Regions from separate parts of the Homo sapiens genome. Here region 1 is linked to region 2. The links come from fine-mapping of genetic effects on plasma protein levels. A gene starts in region 2. The other region holds a variant in brackets. All regions are shown on one strand. Distances are from middle to middle.

Region 1 (5,450 bases), 37 kb after region 2:
AATATTTTAGGTGTAAAATAATTAAGGGTATGATTAACTCTACCTGCACACTGTCCTATTATATTCATTCTTTTTGAAATGTCAACCCCAAGTTAGTTCAATCTGGATTCATATTTAATTTGAAGGTAGAATGTTTTCAAATGTTCTCCAGTCATTATGTTAATATTTCTGAGGAGCCTGCAACATGCCAGCCACTGTGATAGAGGCTGGCGGATCCAAGCAAATGGCCAATGAGATCATTGTGAAGGCAGGGGAATGTATGTGCACATCTGTTTTGTAACTGTTTAGATGAATGTCAGTTGTTATTTATTGAAATGATTTCACAGTGTGTGGTCAACATTTCTCATGTTGAAACTTTAAGAACTAAAATGTTCTAAATATCCCTTGGACATTTTATGTCTTTCTTGTAAGGCATACTGCCTTGTTTAATGGTAGTTTTACAGTGTTTCTGGCTTAGAACAAAGGGGCTTAATTATTGATGTTTTCATAGAGAATATAAAAATAAAGCACTTATAGAAAAAACTCGTTTGATTTTTGGGGGGAAACAAGGGCTACCTTTACTGGAAAATCTGGTGATTTATATCAATATTTCTCAATTTTTTAATTGTGTTTATTTTTCTGGGTGTTCAATTTGCTATACAGATAAATCAAACTATGAGTTATGCTTCATTTCATGCGGTGATTGCTGCCAATACCCTTGGCTCTCACCTAGTGAAGAATGCGCTTTACTAAACTATGGGCTGGCCCCTAATGGGAGAGTCACTGATATAAATTGCCCTTTTTATAAGAAGTTTCTTTCTGTCTTGCTACTCAAATTTACCTCCTTAAAAATATTTATATTATCTTAACAAGGGCTCTCATTTCATTGCTTTTGTTGAACAATATTTCTCATAATTGTTGACAATTTAATGAAGCTGGCAGTGAAATGGTGGCTAAAATATTTCGTTTTTCAAAACTCAAATCATTTGTGTCGTCAATAGAAGCAAAAGTGAGTGGCTGAATGCTTCACCTGTGAAAAGATCTGATTGAAATT[T/C]GGGCTCAGCTTTCTAGCCTTCACATATAAGTAATTAGCACTAAGATTTGCGGTGTTTCAATCCTTTATAGCAATATACCAACTATAATGGTTTTAAGATTGGACTGCATTCATTTGCATCGTTCCTAGTGGAATTTTGATGGGACCTCATAGAGCGGTTGCCTTCTGGGGAACTCTGTATTCAATGCTGTCCCAGAACAGCAGCAGCACTACAGGTTTTTAGGACAGAAGCAAAATTGGCATGTCTAAGGAAGAAATACCCCAATAATATAAAAGAAACCACACTCCAAACCTGAAAAGGAAGGATGTTCGTGCATGCATGAGGTGTGTGCTTGTTTCTGATTCAGAACTCATTCAGAAATCCTGAGCCCTGGGTAACTGCCTCTAACAGAGGCAAGAAGGTGAGACTGGCAGCCTCAATACTTCAAATCAAATTCTGGATCATCCCAAGAAGCTGGGCAAATAGAGGTCATAAGCAACAAGAAACAAACTCTGTGAGCTTTTCTCACAACTAAAAAAGTTAAAAACAAGAATCTCTTCATAATTCCAACATTATTAGTTAATTATGAATGAGATGAGGAAGAAGAATATTTGTAAACTATACATAAGCAAATAAATGCAAACCATTTGAGAAACTCCATAAATGGTAGCATTCACTCCCTAACCCCAAGTTAGAGGACACTGGAAAATGTTTACAAGTAGCATCCAAGGGTTCAATAAAACCACTCCTTACACCTAAGACAAGTCCTTACCCTCAAACATTGGAGCTTGCTGTACTGGCTACCTAGCTCTGGCTAATATGGAACAGGGAACATAAAAAGGACAAAAGAGATGCTTTTATTCACATGGTGGTTAAAGACAGATTTCAAAGGATCAGATTGACTTTGGTGTAAATTCCAGCTCTGTCACTGTGATCTTGGGCAAGTTTCTTTACTTCACTCAACCTCATTTTCCTTTCTATAGGATGAGGATAATAAAATTAGCCTTCTGAAGTGTTGTAAGAATTAAATGTTATGGAGGCTCTGGAAACCTGGTTCTTGCCATTGGTCCTCAGGCCAACTCCATGGACATGGTCTCAGTCTCAGTCTTAGATCAAGCAGATATGTAAATTGTGTTTTCACACCAAATTGCTCTGAAAACTTGCAAGTACAAGGCAGTCTCCTGTTGGGAGTGTTATAGCAGGAAGTAGGATACAGCGTTTTTGGCGTGGTAGTCACAGGGTGAAGGAAGTAGGAAAAGGATATTACATAACACATCACAGTTTTGAGAAGCCATCAGCAGGAAACAGCAATGATCACAGTGACTGAGGTTTCTTGAGCAATGTTACCATGGGGTCTAGAGAAGGAAAGAAGGAGACGTGGCTAACGCTATTCTATCATTGTGAGTCCTCCTGAGACACCCTCTCAGGTGTTCCAGAAGTAACTGGAGAGACGTTAAGGGATGGTGGAGGTGGCAGACCCACAATAGCACAGTGAGGGAAATCCAGAAAAACAGATCACACAGTTTGTCTTTTCTGGCTACCCAATCACATAATTTAAAAAAGGACCTGCCTGTCTTCACCAATGATGTCCCACTCCCCTCACAATGAGTACAACAGCTGCAATGTATAACAGCTTCCCAACTTAAGGCACTTGTTCTTCTGCATCTCTTCCTGGGGGCTTCCTCCATTGAGGTGTGGGAAAGGGGGCTTGGCAGAGAGAGATTTCTCAGCCCACAGCTAGGATGGCCTGTGATTTGATGCCCTGAGAGGAGAGATAGGAGTTAAAGGATGAATATTCAATTTTCCCAGTCTCTTGTTAGATAATTCTAGAATTTCCTATCTCTCTCTCCATATATATGTGTGTGTTTAAATTTTATAGATAGTGTATTAAAATAAATAAATATTAAAAAGACATATGAATAGATGAAATGTTCCACTTCCCTCTTCATTATGTTTACACCTTCTTTACACACCTGAGCATAATTAAGATAGTTATTTTAAAATCTTGGTATGCTAAGTCTATCATTCTGTCACTTCTGAATCTATATTTACTTGATTTTTTTTCTCTTATATAACTCATGCTGTTCTACTTCTTAGCATGTATAATCATTTTCATTTGACTGCAGGAAATTTTGAATCTTATGTTGCTGAGTGTCAAGATTTGTTCTCTTTCTTTAGAGTCTTGGGCTCCATTTTGACAAGCAGGTAAGTTCTAGGGCATCAGCTTTGTCTCTTTGGGGCTTGTTGTTGAGCTTTGTTAGGGTGGTCTAGGAATGTTCTTCACTCTAGGGTTTGTTTAGCTGTACTACTAAGTCATGTCCTTCTTGTGCCGTTAGTGAATGCCCTGAGTGCTCACAGGTTCTCTCTACTACGACAGGGTAGACCTTAACTATCTCCTCATTCCATGCTAGGTCTGAGGTTTTCTCAGCTTACAAATCTCTAGTTACTCTTTGCTTGACTTATGGAGTTTCCCCCACCGTGCGTGTGTGACTTAGTACTGATCAAAGAGACCCAGTGGGACCTCAGTGCAGATTTATGGAGTTCTGGTTTCTTGCATAGATCTCCCCTTTCTACAACTCTTTTTTCCTAAACTTCTAGCCACCCCAGCTCCCTTGAATTCAAACCTGTGCCCCCTCAACTCAGTAAGACTACCATGGTCTACTTTGGATCTCTCCCCTTGCACGGTGGTCCAGAGTTGCTCCAGAAAAAAACCAAGATCACCATACACCTCACCTTGTTTATTTCCTTTTCTGAGGAATTCTAGCCTTTTGCTGCTTGTTGTCCAATGTCTGATAACAATTGCTTCATATATTGTGTTGCATTTTCTAGTTGCTTAAGACAGGAAGTTATGACTTCTGTTTTACTTCAACGTGACTGGAAATTGAAGTCTTATTGGGACAATTCTGAGGAACATTTTACAAGGTTTCCTTGAGACTCCATGGCAAGATGAAGCCCTGGTTGCACAAATGATAGCTCATTCATTACATACACTTTATTAGATTTTCTCTCTTCCCTATCCCACATTCCCCCACTCCTTCACTTGTTCTTTCCATGATCACCTGTAAGATAAACTACTGCGCATAAGTCTTTTATCAGACTCTGTTTTGGGGGAGCCCAAACTTAGACAGTTGGGCCCCCCAGAAATTAGACCTCATAGCAGAGGCTTATGACTACTATTTTATTGAGGAGTATAATGCCAGAAAACCAAGAGGAAGAAAAATGGGAAGTGAGGCAGAAACAAGTGAAAGCTCATGATAGAAGAGAGCAGAACCACACTGGCCATTGCTGCACACAACTGAGTTCTTGACCTCACAAAGGGGCTGTTGTGAGTGTTTGCTTTCCTCATCTGCAGAAACTATGAAACCTGCTCAAACCAAGAAATTGTAGTTGTTGTGTTTATAGCAGAGTCATAAATCTTCCTAACAGCAGGGCATCAGCCTCTGATTTCTATTCCTTGGCTATGCTTAAAATAAAAATGTGGAATCTGGATCCACAAGGTACTAAAGCAGGGAGAAAGAGTCTACTAAACCATAGTCAGGACCTCATTTTCACCTTTGAAAAGGTGAGGACTCCAACTGACATTTTTGTTCTCCACATTAAAAGTAATAAATCTTTCTTTTTTTAAGTGAAAAGTAGTTAGAAATGCTACTGTTGCTTTCAAGAATCTCCTAAAAAAGAAGCCAGATCATATGGTGAGAAATAAATAAATAAAATGTTGAGACTAGGGACTGATCCCTTGACAGCCAGACAGGAGTTTGGTTCAAAACTTGAGAGATCACAAGAAAAAGAAAATCAGCCTTCTCATTTTATAGATGGAACTACAAAGGCTCAGAAACCACCAAGGAGTTACCAAATGCCATGGAATTATTTTATTACAAAAGTGGGTCAGAGTTTGGTTTTCTGATGACTAATACACAGTGATTTTTATTAAACTAGATTATTTTCATGACTGCTCAAGAAGACAGTTATCCTAAATTTTGGCTACAGGATTGGCTTTCTAAAATTTGTAGAACCATTCTCAGAGTACTAATTAATAGCTAATAGCCATTCACGCCATGTGCCACTTTAAGAAAGTTTAAAGAAAACATTGTGCATATTGTAGCCAAATAATTCAAAGTATAAAATGAGTTCAGCCAATTTACTGGCTAAATTACTCTATTAATCATCTATTGTCTCCCGAAAATGCAGTGGGTTTAAACAGTCACCATTTTATTTTGACACATGACCATCAATTTGGGCTAGGCAATACAACAACCTGGGCTTGGCTCAGGTAGTTCTTCTGATGGTGTCTCCTGGAGTCACCAGGTGACACTTGGTGACCGAGTGCAGCTGCCTCACTCACATGTCTGGTTTTTTGCACTAGTCATTGCCTGGGCCTCATGAGCTTGGCTATCCTCATATGGTGGCAGCTGCATTTTAACAGAGCAGGGGTAGAAA
Region 2 (5,000 bases):
AAAGGATTGACTTTCAGAAATTTTTCTCAAGTCAAAGCTTCCACTACTATGGTTCCAACTTTTCTCTCTTTTTTTTAATTTTATTATTATTATACTTTAAGTTTTAGGGTACATGTGCACAATGTGCAGGTTAGTTACATATCTATACATGTGCCATGCTGGTGTGCTGCACCCATTAACTCGTCATTTAGCATTAGGTACATCTCCTAATGCTATCCCTCCCCCCTCCCCCCAGCCCACAACAGTCCCCAGAGTGTGATGTTCCCCTTCCTGTGTCCATGTGTTCTCCTTGTTCAATTCCCACCTATGAGTGAGAACATGCGGTGTTTGGTTTTTTGTCCTTGCGATAGTTTACTGAGAATGATGATTTCCAATTTCATCCACGTCCCTACAAAGGACATGAACTCATCCTTTTTTATGGCTGCATAGTATTCCATGGTGTATATGTGCCACATTTTCTTAATCCAGTCTATCATTGTTGGACATTTGGGTTGGTTCCAAGTCTTTGCTATTGTGAATAGTGCTGCAATAAACATTCGTGTGCATGTGTCTTTATAGCAGCATGATTTATAGTCCTTTGGGTATATACCCAGTAATGGGACGGCTGGGTCAAATGGTATTTGTAGTTCTAGATCCCTGAGGAATCGCCACACTGACTTCCACACTGGTTGAACTAGTTTACAGTCCCACCAACAGTGTAAAAGTGTTCCCATTTCTCCACATCCTCTCCAGCACCTGTTGTTTCCTGACTTTTTAATGATTGCCATTCTAACTGGTGTGAGATGGTATCTCATTGTGGTTTTGATTTGCATTTCTCTGATGGCCAGTGATGGTGAGCATTGTTTCATGTGTTTTTTGGCTGCATAAATGTCTTGAGAAGTGTCTGTTCATGTCCTTCATCCACTTTTTGATGGGGTTGTTTGTTTTTTTGTTGTAAATTTGTTTGAGTTCATTGTAGGTTCTGGATATTAGCCCTTTGTCAGATGAGTAGGTCGCGAAAATTTTCTCCCATTTTGTAGGTTGCCTGTTCACTCTGATGGTAGTTTCTTTTGCTGTGCAGAAGCTCTTGAGTTTAATTAGATCCCATTTGTCAATTTTGGCTTTTGTTGCCATTGCTTTTGGTGTTTTATACATGAAGACCTTGCCCATGCCTATGTCCTGAATGGGTAATGCCTAGGTTTTCTTCTAGGGTTTTTATGGTTTCAGGTCTAACGTTTAAGTCTTTAATCCATCTTGAATTAATTTTTGTATAAGGTGTAAGGAAGGGATCCAGTTTCAGCTTTCTACATATGGCTAGCCAGTTTTCCCAGCACCATTTATTAAATAGGGAATCCTTTCCCTATTGCTTGTTTTTCTCAGGTTTGTCAAAGATCAGATAGTTGTAGATATGCGGCATTATTTCTGAGGGCTCTGTTCTGTTCCATTGATCTATATCTCTGTTTTGGTACCAGTACCATGCTGTTTTGGTTACTGTAGCCTTGTAGTATAGTTTGAAGTCAGGTAGCGTGATGCCTCCAGCTTGGTTCTTTTGGCTTAGGATTGACTTGGCCATGCGGGCTCTTTTTTGGTTCCATATGAACTTTCAAGTAGTTTTTTCCAATTCTGTGAAGAAAGTCATTGGTAGCTTGATGGGGATGGTATTGAATCTATAAGTTACCTTGGGCAGTATGGCCATATTCACGATATTGATTTTTCCTACCCATGAGCATGGAATATTCTTCCATTTGTTTGTATCCTCTTTTATTTCATTGAGCAGTGGTTTGTAGTTCTCCTTGAAGAGGTCCTTCATGTCCCTTGTAAGTTGGATTCCTAGGTATTTTATTCTCTTTGAAGCAATTGTGAATGGGAGTTCACTCATGATTTGGCTCTCTGTTTGTTTGTTATTGGTGTATAAGAATGCTTGTGATTTTTGTGCATTGATTTTGTATCCTGAGACTTTGCTGAAGTTGCTTATCAGCTTAAGGAGATTTTGGGCTGAGACCATGTCTCTGTTTGTTTGTTATTGGTGTATAAGAATGCTTGTGATTTTTGTGCATTGATTTTGTATCCTGAGACTTTGCTGAAGTTGCTTATCAGCTTAAGGAGATTTTGGGCTGAGACCATGGGGTTTTCTAGATATACAATTATGTAATTTGCAAATAGGGACAATTTGACTTCCTCTTTTCCTAATTGAATACCCTTTATTTCCTTCTCCTGCCTAATTGTCCTGGCCATTGGAGAGGAGGAGCATCTCCCAGACAGCTGCGTGCCTCAGAGAAGCCAGCCTCGCTAACCCCTCAAGCCCAGGGGATGAGACCCTGCTGAATCGCTGCTCTATTTTGGCTGGAGCCACAGCTCCCTCCACCGCGGGGCGGGGCTAAAATGTCCTCCCCCTTAAGGGAGCAGGCAGCTCCTCCCAGCCACCCACCCCACCAATTCCCATCCTCCCGCCCCCCTCCACCAACCCCTTCTTTCCACACTGCCCCCTGAGTTCAGGGAATTTCCCCAGCATCCCAAAGCTTGAGTTTCCTGCCAGTCGGGAGGGATGAATGCAGATAAAGGGAGTGCAGAAGGCACGAGGAAACCAAAGTGCTCTGTATCCTCCAGTCTCCGCGCCTCCACCCAGCTCAGGAACCCGCGAACCCTCTCTTGACCACTATGAGCCTCCCGTCCAGCCGCGCGGCCCGTGTCCCGGGTCCTTCGGGCTCCTTGTGCGCGCTGCTCGCGCTGCTGCTCCTGCTGACGCCGCCGGGGCCCCTCGCCAGCGGTGAGAGCTCCTGGCACTGGGGTGCATCCCAGCCTCTGCGGGGCCGCTGCGTTCCAGGGAACTCTCCCAGCAACCTGCCCTATAAAAATGTCTTTCTTCCCCAGCTGGTCCTGTCTCTGCTGTGCTGACAGAGCTGCGTTGCACTTGTTTACGCGTTACGCTGAGAGTAAACCCCAAAACGATTGGTAAACTGCAGGTGTTCCCCGCAGGCCCGCAGTGCTCCAAGGTGGAAGTGGTGTAAGTTCTCCTGTGTTGCTGTGTCCACTGTGACTTAGGCAAGTCCTCCAGCCTGGGTCGTCAACCTTTGTGGCTCATGGGTGCATCCTCTTTTTCTTTACTTCAGAGCCTCCCTGAAGAACGGGAAGCAAGTTTGTCTGGACCCGGAAGCCCCTTTTCTAAAGAAAGTCATCCAGAAAATTTTGGACAGGTATTTGTCCCTTTGATCTTTGTGGTGTTTTAATATCTTCTATGGAAAGCATATACTTCACAATGTCCTTATTCTCTCTGTAGGATTTAGACTATGCTTAGAATTATAAGGTTGTTAAGAAGAATAAGGAAACTTTTTTTCTGGAATGTTCTGGGTAAACCTTTATCACCAATCTTACATGCCTGAACAATTACACAGAGCTCATTACTGACATCTATTTTTTGTCTGCTCTTTGCTTTTATTGATTTTTTTCCCCCACCAAACGCTTTTGAAAACCAAATGTAGCATACAAGAGTGTGGGAATTGGTTATACTAATATAACTCTTTTCTCAACAGTGGAAACAAGAAAAACTGAGTAACAAAAAAGACCATGCATCATAAAATTGCCCAGTCTTCAGCGGAGCAGTTTTCTGGAGATCCCTGGACCCAGTAAGAATAAGAAGGAAGGGTTGGTTTTTTTCCATTTTCTACATGGATTCCCTACTTTGAAGAGTGTGGGGGAAAGCCTACGCTTCTCCCTGAAGTTTACAGCTCAGCTAATGAAGTACTAATATAGTATTTCCACTATTTACTGTTATTTTACCTGATAAGTTATTGAACCCTTTGGCAATTGACCATATTGTGAGCAAAGAATCACTGGTTATTAGTCTTTCAATGAATATTGAATTGAAGATAACTATTGTATTTCTATCATACATTCCTTAAAGTCTTACCGAAAAGGCTGTGGATTTCGTATGGAAATAATGTTTTATTAGTGTGCTGTTGAGGGAGGTATCCTGTTGTTCTTACTCACTCTTCTCATAAAATAGGAAATATTTTAGTTCTGTTTCTTGGGGAATATGTTACTCTTTACCCTAGGATGCTATTTAAGTTGTACTGTATTAGAACACTGGGTGTGTCATACCGTTATCTGTGCAGAATATATTTCCTTATTCAGAATTTCTAAAAATTTAAGTTCTGTAAGGGCTAATATATTCTCTTCCTATGGTTTTAGACGTTTGATGTCTTCTTAGTATGGCATAATGTCATGATTTACTCATTAAACTTTGATTTTGTATGCTATTTTTTCACTATAGGATGACTATAATTCTGGTCACTAAATATACACTTTAGATAGATGAAGAAGCCCAAAAACAGATAAATTCCTGATTGCTAATTTACATAGAAATGTATTCTCTTGGTTTTTTAAATAAAAGCAAAATTAACAATGATCTGTGCTCTGAAAGTTTTGAAAATATATTTGAACAATTTGAATATAAATTCATCATTTAGTCCTCAAAATATATATAGCATTGCTAAGATTTTCAGATATCTATTGTGGATCTTTTAAAGGTTTTGACCATTTTGTTATGAGGAATTATACATGTATCACATTCACTATATTAAAATTGCACTTTTATTTTTTCCTGTGTGTCATGTTGGTTTTTGGTACTTGTATTGTCATTTGGAGAAACAATAAAAGATTTCTAAACCACTGATGTTGTTTCTCCTTCTTATACAGTTACTATTTATCTTTAATTCTACATTATTCAAAATATTACCTCTGCTCTTCTCTGGCTGGCAGAGAGGGCCCTCATTCCCCAATACCATTGCATTGGTTCAACTTTTCTCCATGTTCAGCCCCCTTCCAGTTACTCCTTCACAGCACCAATAGCCTCTGGGGTCTTTAGAAAACACAAATAGGATAAGATTTTCCTATCTAAATTCTTAAATGGCTCCCTGTTTCCTAGACATGAAATAAAAGTTGCTAAACATGATGAATGAGGTTCTGTCTCATCTCACTCCTGATCATCAGTACTTCAACTTCCCTTGTGCCTCACATTCACT

Which allele goes with the higher level. Positions count from the first base shown, and alleles are read on the strand shown. Strength reflects both the effect of a copy and how common the allele is.
For the plasma level of the protein whose gene starts at base 2,565 in region 2, allele C in region 1 goes with a lower level than allele T (weak association).

The links. A credible set is the group of variants that fine-mapping cannot tell apart. PIP is the posterior inclusion probability: the model's chance that the variant is causal. The UK Biobank Pharma Proteomics Project read protein levels with antibody pairs (Olink). The fine-mapping took linkage between variants from a reference panel, not from the people measured, so its PIPs are less certain.
Region 1: its variant is the best candidate, but not a certain one, in a credible set for the plasma level of the CXCL6 protein (UK Biobank, PIP 0.60).

What each region holds. Positions count from the first base shown.
Region 1 is chr4:73,870,721-73,876,170 of GRCh38, forward strand. It overlaps CXCL1 (C-X-C motif chemokine ligand 1), which reads left to right. Exons shown (of 4, transcript NM_001511.4): 4 at 1-588. Among named protein-coding and RNA genes, the nearest start is that of CXCL1, 4.1 kb to the left of the region's middle. The variant T/C (reference allele first, on the strand shown) is at 1,034.
Region 2 is chr4:73,834,114-73,839,113 of GRCh38, forward strand. It overlaps CXCL6 (C-X-C motif chemokine ligand 6), which reads left to right and starts at 2,565. Exons shown (of 4, transcript NM_002993.4): 1 at 2,565-2,746; 2 at 2,851-2,983; 3 at 3,090-3,173; 4 at 3,510-4,647. The coding sequence starts at 2,638. The coding sequence ends at 3,528. RefSeq lists a silencer at 2,539-2,833.